Linked DNA regions of Homo sapiens: region 2 is linked to region 1. Evidence: fine-mapped expression QTL. A gene starts in region 1. The other region holds a variant in brackets. All regions are shown on one strand. Distances are between the middles of the regions. Region 1 holds the start of LINC00398 (long intergenic non-protein coding RNA 398). Region 2 overlaps ALOX5AP (arachidonate 5-lipoxygenase activating protein).

Region 1 (2,911 bases):
TAGGACTTCAGTTTCCTTGTTTCATAATCTGCTCCCGAATACCCCATATCTGGGCATATTCTTATTTGATTCAGGTCTGCTGTGGTCCAGATCTGTAAGACTCTGCCCTGCAAACAGACAGTATAGAAAATATCATCAGTGACCATATTATTTAACCTCCACATTATCACCCACATCCTCATGAGTGTGAGGGTCCAAATGGTACTGATAAGAAAAGTTAGTAAGAGGCAAGGTCACCTGCAGTGTCTGGGGTAACAGACACCACATCTCTGCAAGCCCCAGCCTTCAGCCTGCCAGGTGGAGGGGCAGACTCCATCTGATCTCAGAAAATTTGAGAACCGTCCAGGCACAGTGGCTCACACCTTTAATTCCAGCACTTTGGGAGGCCAAGGCTGGTGAATCACTTGAGGTCAGGAGTTTGAGACGAGCCTGGCCAACATGGCGAAACCCCGTCTCCACTAAAAATACAAAAATTATCCGGGCATGGTGGCACGCACCTGTAGTCACAGCTTCTCGGAGGCTGAGGCAGGAGAATTGCTTGAATCCTGGAAGCGGAAGTTGCAGTGAACTGAAATCATACCACCGCACTCCAGCCTGTGTGACAGAAACAGACTCTGTCTCAAAAAAAAAAAAAAATTGAGAACCTTCCCAGGGCCCACCTACAGTTGACTCTTGAGTAATGAAGGCTTTAGGGGTGCCAATCCCCACACAGTTTAAAATCTATATACAACTTTTGACTCCCCCAAACTGAACTACTAATAGCCTACTGTTGACTGGAAGCCTTATTGATAACATAAATAGTCGATTCACACATATTTTGTATGTTAATGTATTATATACTATATTCTTACAATAAAGTAAGCTAAAGAAAAGAAATTGTTATTTAAAAAATCATAAGGAAGAGAAAGTATATCGACTACTCATTAAGTGGAAGTGGATCGCCATGAAGGCCTTCAGCCTTGTGGTCTTCTGAGTAGGCTGAGGAGGAGGAGGAAGAGGAGGGGTTGGTCCCGCTTCTCAGGGGTGGCAGAGGCAGAAGAAGGTCCACCTCTAACTGGACACACACAGTTCAAACCTGTGTTGTTCAAGGTCAACTGTACACGCCACCGAGACCAGAATGGGTGGTTTGATATTTGTCAGTGGCAACAATTCAATATTCTATCCTTTAGATGTTTTCTCACTCTGGTCACATTTAATGTGTTTAATTGATGCTGTGTGGAAGTTTCTTCACGTTAGAGGATAAATAAGCCATTCCCTTTGATAGGAGCCTGGGGCTTTCCCTGCGAGGAGGGCACTTTGGGAGCAGCCTTCTCATTAGAGGGCAATTAGCCGGGCTCCCGCACCCGGTGCCCTGAGCGGGGCTCCTGAGTAGGCAGGGCAGACGCGCCATCTAGTGGCAGCTCTCAGGACGTCCACACGCCTGCTCCTGCGGGCTCCCGCGCCCTGGGGTGGCAGGCACCGGCATGCTAGAGGTTAACGAGGAGGTTCCCTCCTTCCAGCGTGGATGAGCCTTTCCGTGAGGGTGACCGGAAAGGCGCCTGGGCTGGTGACGGTGTCAAGTGTAGGCAAGAAATACGGCTGATCAAGAAGCGACTTCACCTCCCTCGCACAACACTGAGTCCCTTTGCGGCAGGGGCCCTCCCCGCCGCGAACCCTACTTGGAACCTTGCGCCATGCGATGTCTCTCTCATTCTAGGCCACGGAAGCCCTGGGTCACCCTTTCAGCCTGGTTCTCTCCGGTGGTGCTGGCTTGTTTCTCCTGTCTGTTGGGGTCAGCTGCGTCCAGCCTCGGCTCCTGCAGGATTGCCCGGGCAACCCAGAGGAGATGGGCGGGCGTGGAGGTCCTCCCTGGATGACCCTTCCCACCATTTCAACATCATTAGGAATTTAACAGGCTTTTGCAAGAAGGCCCAGGTACGCATCCCCCCATTTATAGTAGGATTTCCAGGACAAAATGTATTCCACTCTCTAAACAACAAGCAACATGTATACAACCCATTCATAAGGTAAAGATTCCCTTGCCTACACCTAGCTTCTCCTGCCCAAGCATGGCCTTGTCGTTCTCTTCCCCAGGTCAAGTTCAGGACCTAGCAGCTGGGAATGCACATTTTCCAAGTTAAGAGTGGAAGAGTCCCAGCTTGGCTTAGATGGAGTCACATATAGGATTCAGGTTTGCCTTGGCAGGTCTGATGGACCTTGGTGAGGGTCCGCCAGCAGCTGTGCACAGCAGCTGCCCAGGGCCATGCAGCAGGCACCGCACTCCCCTTCCAGGAAGGATTCCAGGCCCAGCTACAAGGAGCGTGGCTACTGACAGCTGTCCACTCACAGCTCGTCAGACTAAGCTTCAGCTTTCAAAAAGGACTGTGCCCTCCTTGGGCTGGCCCAGGCCCACATAAGAGCAAGGCAGTGGCCCAAAGGCCTGGCATTTCTGCCCACCACGGGATTCCTCTCCTGGGTGGTCTGTGCTCCAGAGCTCTCTGTGGGGCTGGCTTACTTCTCCCCTGGCCCCTCCACAGGAGTTACTCAGCTATAGCCCCTCTGCACACATAACTCTATCTGGGAGCCTTTCCCGGAGGATGCAACCTAACTGGTTGGCTCATCCTATAGAAGCCAGTGTCCTTGACTTTTTCAGGTGATGAACCTCTTTTGAGAGGATGCTGATAACTGTAAGCATCTTCCCAGGATTTGCACATGTCCAGTGTTAGAGTGCAGGTCCCCCAAGGCCATCCCACGGGCCTTCACAGGGAGTCGGGTTGAGGACTTCTGACTGAAGGAGGTGGGGAGGAGGCGAAGTCGGGGAATGAGGAAGATGGGGCTGGGGGATAATAACAGGGCTTCCGGCAATGGAGAGGAGGGTTAATTCTCATTTCTGACTCACAGCGCAGCCTCCCATGAGTTCATGGATTCTGTG
Region 2 (2,911 bases), 39 kb before region 1:
TGGCTGAGTGACTTTCAGACTCCTGCTGTAGAAAAATTATGAGTTGGCTGGGCGTGGTGGCTCACGCCTGTAATCCCAGCACTTTGGGAGGCCGAGGTGGGCAGATCACCTGAGGTCAGGAGTTCGAGACCAGCCTGGCCAACATGGTGAAACACCATCTCTACCAAAAATACAAAAATTAGCCAGGTGTGGTGGCAGGTGCCTGTAATCCCAGCTACTCAGGAGGCTGAGGCAGGAGAATCGCTTGAACCCGGGAGGCAGAGGTTGCAGTGATCTGAGATCGTGCCACTGCACTCCAGCTGGGCAATAGAGCTTGACTCAGTCTCAAAAAAAAAAAAAGAAAAGAAAAAGAAAAATTATGAGTTATATTATCAGCATATGGGGTGCCTTTCAAATTGATAAAATTTCTAATATTAAACCTGTGGATGCCAAATGCTGCTCTCTGATTATGGCAGGAAACGGCACTTGGCAGTACGAAGTTAGCTGTTGGGCTGAGCTGGCTCATCTTGTTGTGCGGTCCTGATTGCCTAAAGATGCCTTCCCAGGATCTTTACTAACAATCCTCCTGAGTCATTTGGACTTTCCCAACCTGTTATCACCTCTCAGATGGGCCAGCCATGGAGGCAGTCAGAGGAGGGCTCTGCAGAGGGAGGGCAGAAACAGGGTGGCCTCTGCATGCCATTAGGAGGTCACATCTCACTGGGGGATGCAGTTTAGGATTTAGTGCCTTGGAGAGAAGGATAGAGTATATTAAAACATGTCTCCGCTAGGCATGGTGGTTTACGCCTATAATCCCAGCACTTTGGGAGGCCGAGGTGAGTGGATTGCCTGAGCTCAGGAGTTCAAGACCAGCCTGGCTAACATGACGAAACCTCATCTCTACTAAAATACAAAAAGTTAGCTGGGAGTGGTGGCGTGCGCCTGTAGTTGCAGCTACTTGGGAGGCTGAGGCATGAGAATCACTTAAGCCCAGAAGACTGAGGTTGCAGTGAGCCGAGATTGCACCACTGCACTCCAGCTTGGGCTACAGAGTGAGACTCTATCTCAAAAACAAAGAAACAAACAACAACAATAACAACAAAAACCAAGTCTCTCCCTCCACTCAAAAATGCAAGGGCCTGTCTCCCATTGCTGGGTGCCCAGGTCTCATGAATGTAGATATGAATTATTCCAGTCAGCCTCAGGAGAATAGAATGAGCCCTCAGATGCCGAAGCACCTTTCAGATTCCACCGGTTTTATC[G/A]GCTCATTTAAACTTCACTTCTAACACAGTCCTGCATTACACACGTGTCTGTCGTTATGGGCAGCTGCAGAGAGGGTCTTAATGGTCCTAATGCTCAGTGAGGATGCCCAATGGTCAACAGAACCTGCCATCTTCAGGCCATCAAGGAGCTCTGGAGTTAAGGAAATCATGAGAGCACAGAGGGGCGGGTACAGCAGAGCCCTCGTGGTAATGGGTTTTGAGGTCTAGGCTCTCTTCACTTGGGTTTGAAATAAGTTCAATGACTAGTAATAGCTGAGACACTTCTACCCTTCAAATGAAGTAAATGGGAAAATGGAGCATTGTTGAGTCCAGGGAGCTATAATTTAAACCCCATATATCTAAAAGGGGTAACATTTTTGTGTGTGTGAAATTGGTGTCATTCGCACTGCATCTACAGTTTTCTTTTTCCTTCTCTTCCAGCACCCCTGGCTACATATTTGGGAAACGCATCATACTCTTCCTGTTCCTCATGTCCGTTGCTGGCATATTCAACTATTACCTCATCTTCTTTTTCGGAAGTGACTTTGAAAACTACATAAAGACGATCTCCACCACCATCTCCCCTCTACTTCTCATTCCCTAACTCTCTGCTGAATATGGGGTTGGTGTTCTCATCTAATCAATACCTACAAGTCATCATAATTCAGCTCTTGAGAGCATTCTGCTCTTCTTTAGATGGCTGTAAATCTATTGGCCATCTGGGCTTCACAGCTTGAGTTAACCTTGCTTTTCCGGGAACAAAATGATGTCATGTCAGCTCCGCCCCTTGAACATGACCGTGGCCCCAAATTTGCTATTCCCATGCATTTTGTTTGTTTCTTCACTTATCCTGTTCTCTGAAGATGTTTTGTGACCAGGTTTGTGTTTTCTTAAAATAAAATGCAGAGACATGTTTTAAGCTGATAGTTGAGGGGTTTTGTTAATGGCTTTTGGGGGATTTATCTCTATACCCACAAACGACTAGTTTGTTTTCCTCAAACTAAATGATAATATTAAAAATACACATCCTGGCCAGGTGTGGTGGCTCATACCTGTAATCCCAGCACTTTGGGAGGCCGAGGCAGGTGGATCACTTGAGGTCAGGAATTAAGACCAGCCTGGCCAATATGGTGAAAGCCTGTCTGTACTAAAAATACAAAAATTAGCCAGGTATGCTGGTGGATGCTTATAATCCCAGCTACTTGGGAGGTTGAGGCAGGAGAATTGCTTGAACCCGGGAGGTAGAGGTTGCAGTGAGCCAAGATCATGCCACTGCACTCCAGCTTGGGCAACAGAGTGAGACTCCATCTCAAATTAAAAAAAATACACATCTGGCTTCTGGAAAAATTACTTGAAGATCTTTTATGACATCCATCCCTCTTCACACAGCCATGTGAATTAGGTTGGTATCTTCATATACTAGCATCGTGCCCAGCACTTCCATGTTATACAGTTTAAAATGTTCTGTAATTCCCTGTGGGAACCTAAGATAATGCGAGGACCGTCATACGTGCCCCCAAATATTGGCAAACCAATGAATAAATGAATGAATGAGTTTATGAATCGCTAACTGGCTGTATTTAATGAAGTATGTGTGTTGAGCCATTTCCCACAGTGTGGACAGATTTGTCCCACAATATGGGCCTCTTCCCAAAGGCCCTACCACCTAA

What was found. PIP is the estimated chance that this variant, and not a neighbour inherited with it, causes the effect.
Region 2: its variant is the best candidate, but not a certain one, in a credible set for the expression of LINC00398 in whole blood (INTERVAL, PIP 0.56).

The regions. Positions count from the first base shown.
Region 1 is chr13:30,801,679-30,804,589 of GRCh38, forward strand. LINC00398 (long intergenic non-protein coding RNA 398) reads left to right here and starts at 1,528. Exons shown (of 2, transcript NR_047012.1): 1 at 1,528-1,914. RefSeq lists a silencer at 1,303-1,422.
Region 2 is chr13:30,762,262-30,765,172 of GRCh38, forward strand. ALOX5AP (arachidonate 5-lipoxygenase activating protein) reads left to right here. Exons shown (of 5, transcript NM_001629.4): 5 at 1,683-2,165. The coding sequence ends at 1,845. Among named protein-coding and RNA genes, the nearest start is that of ALOX5AP, 28 kb to the left of the region's middle. The variant G/A (reference allele first, on the strand shown) is at 1,242.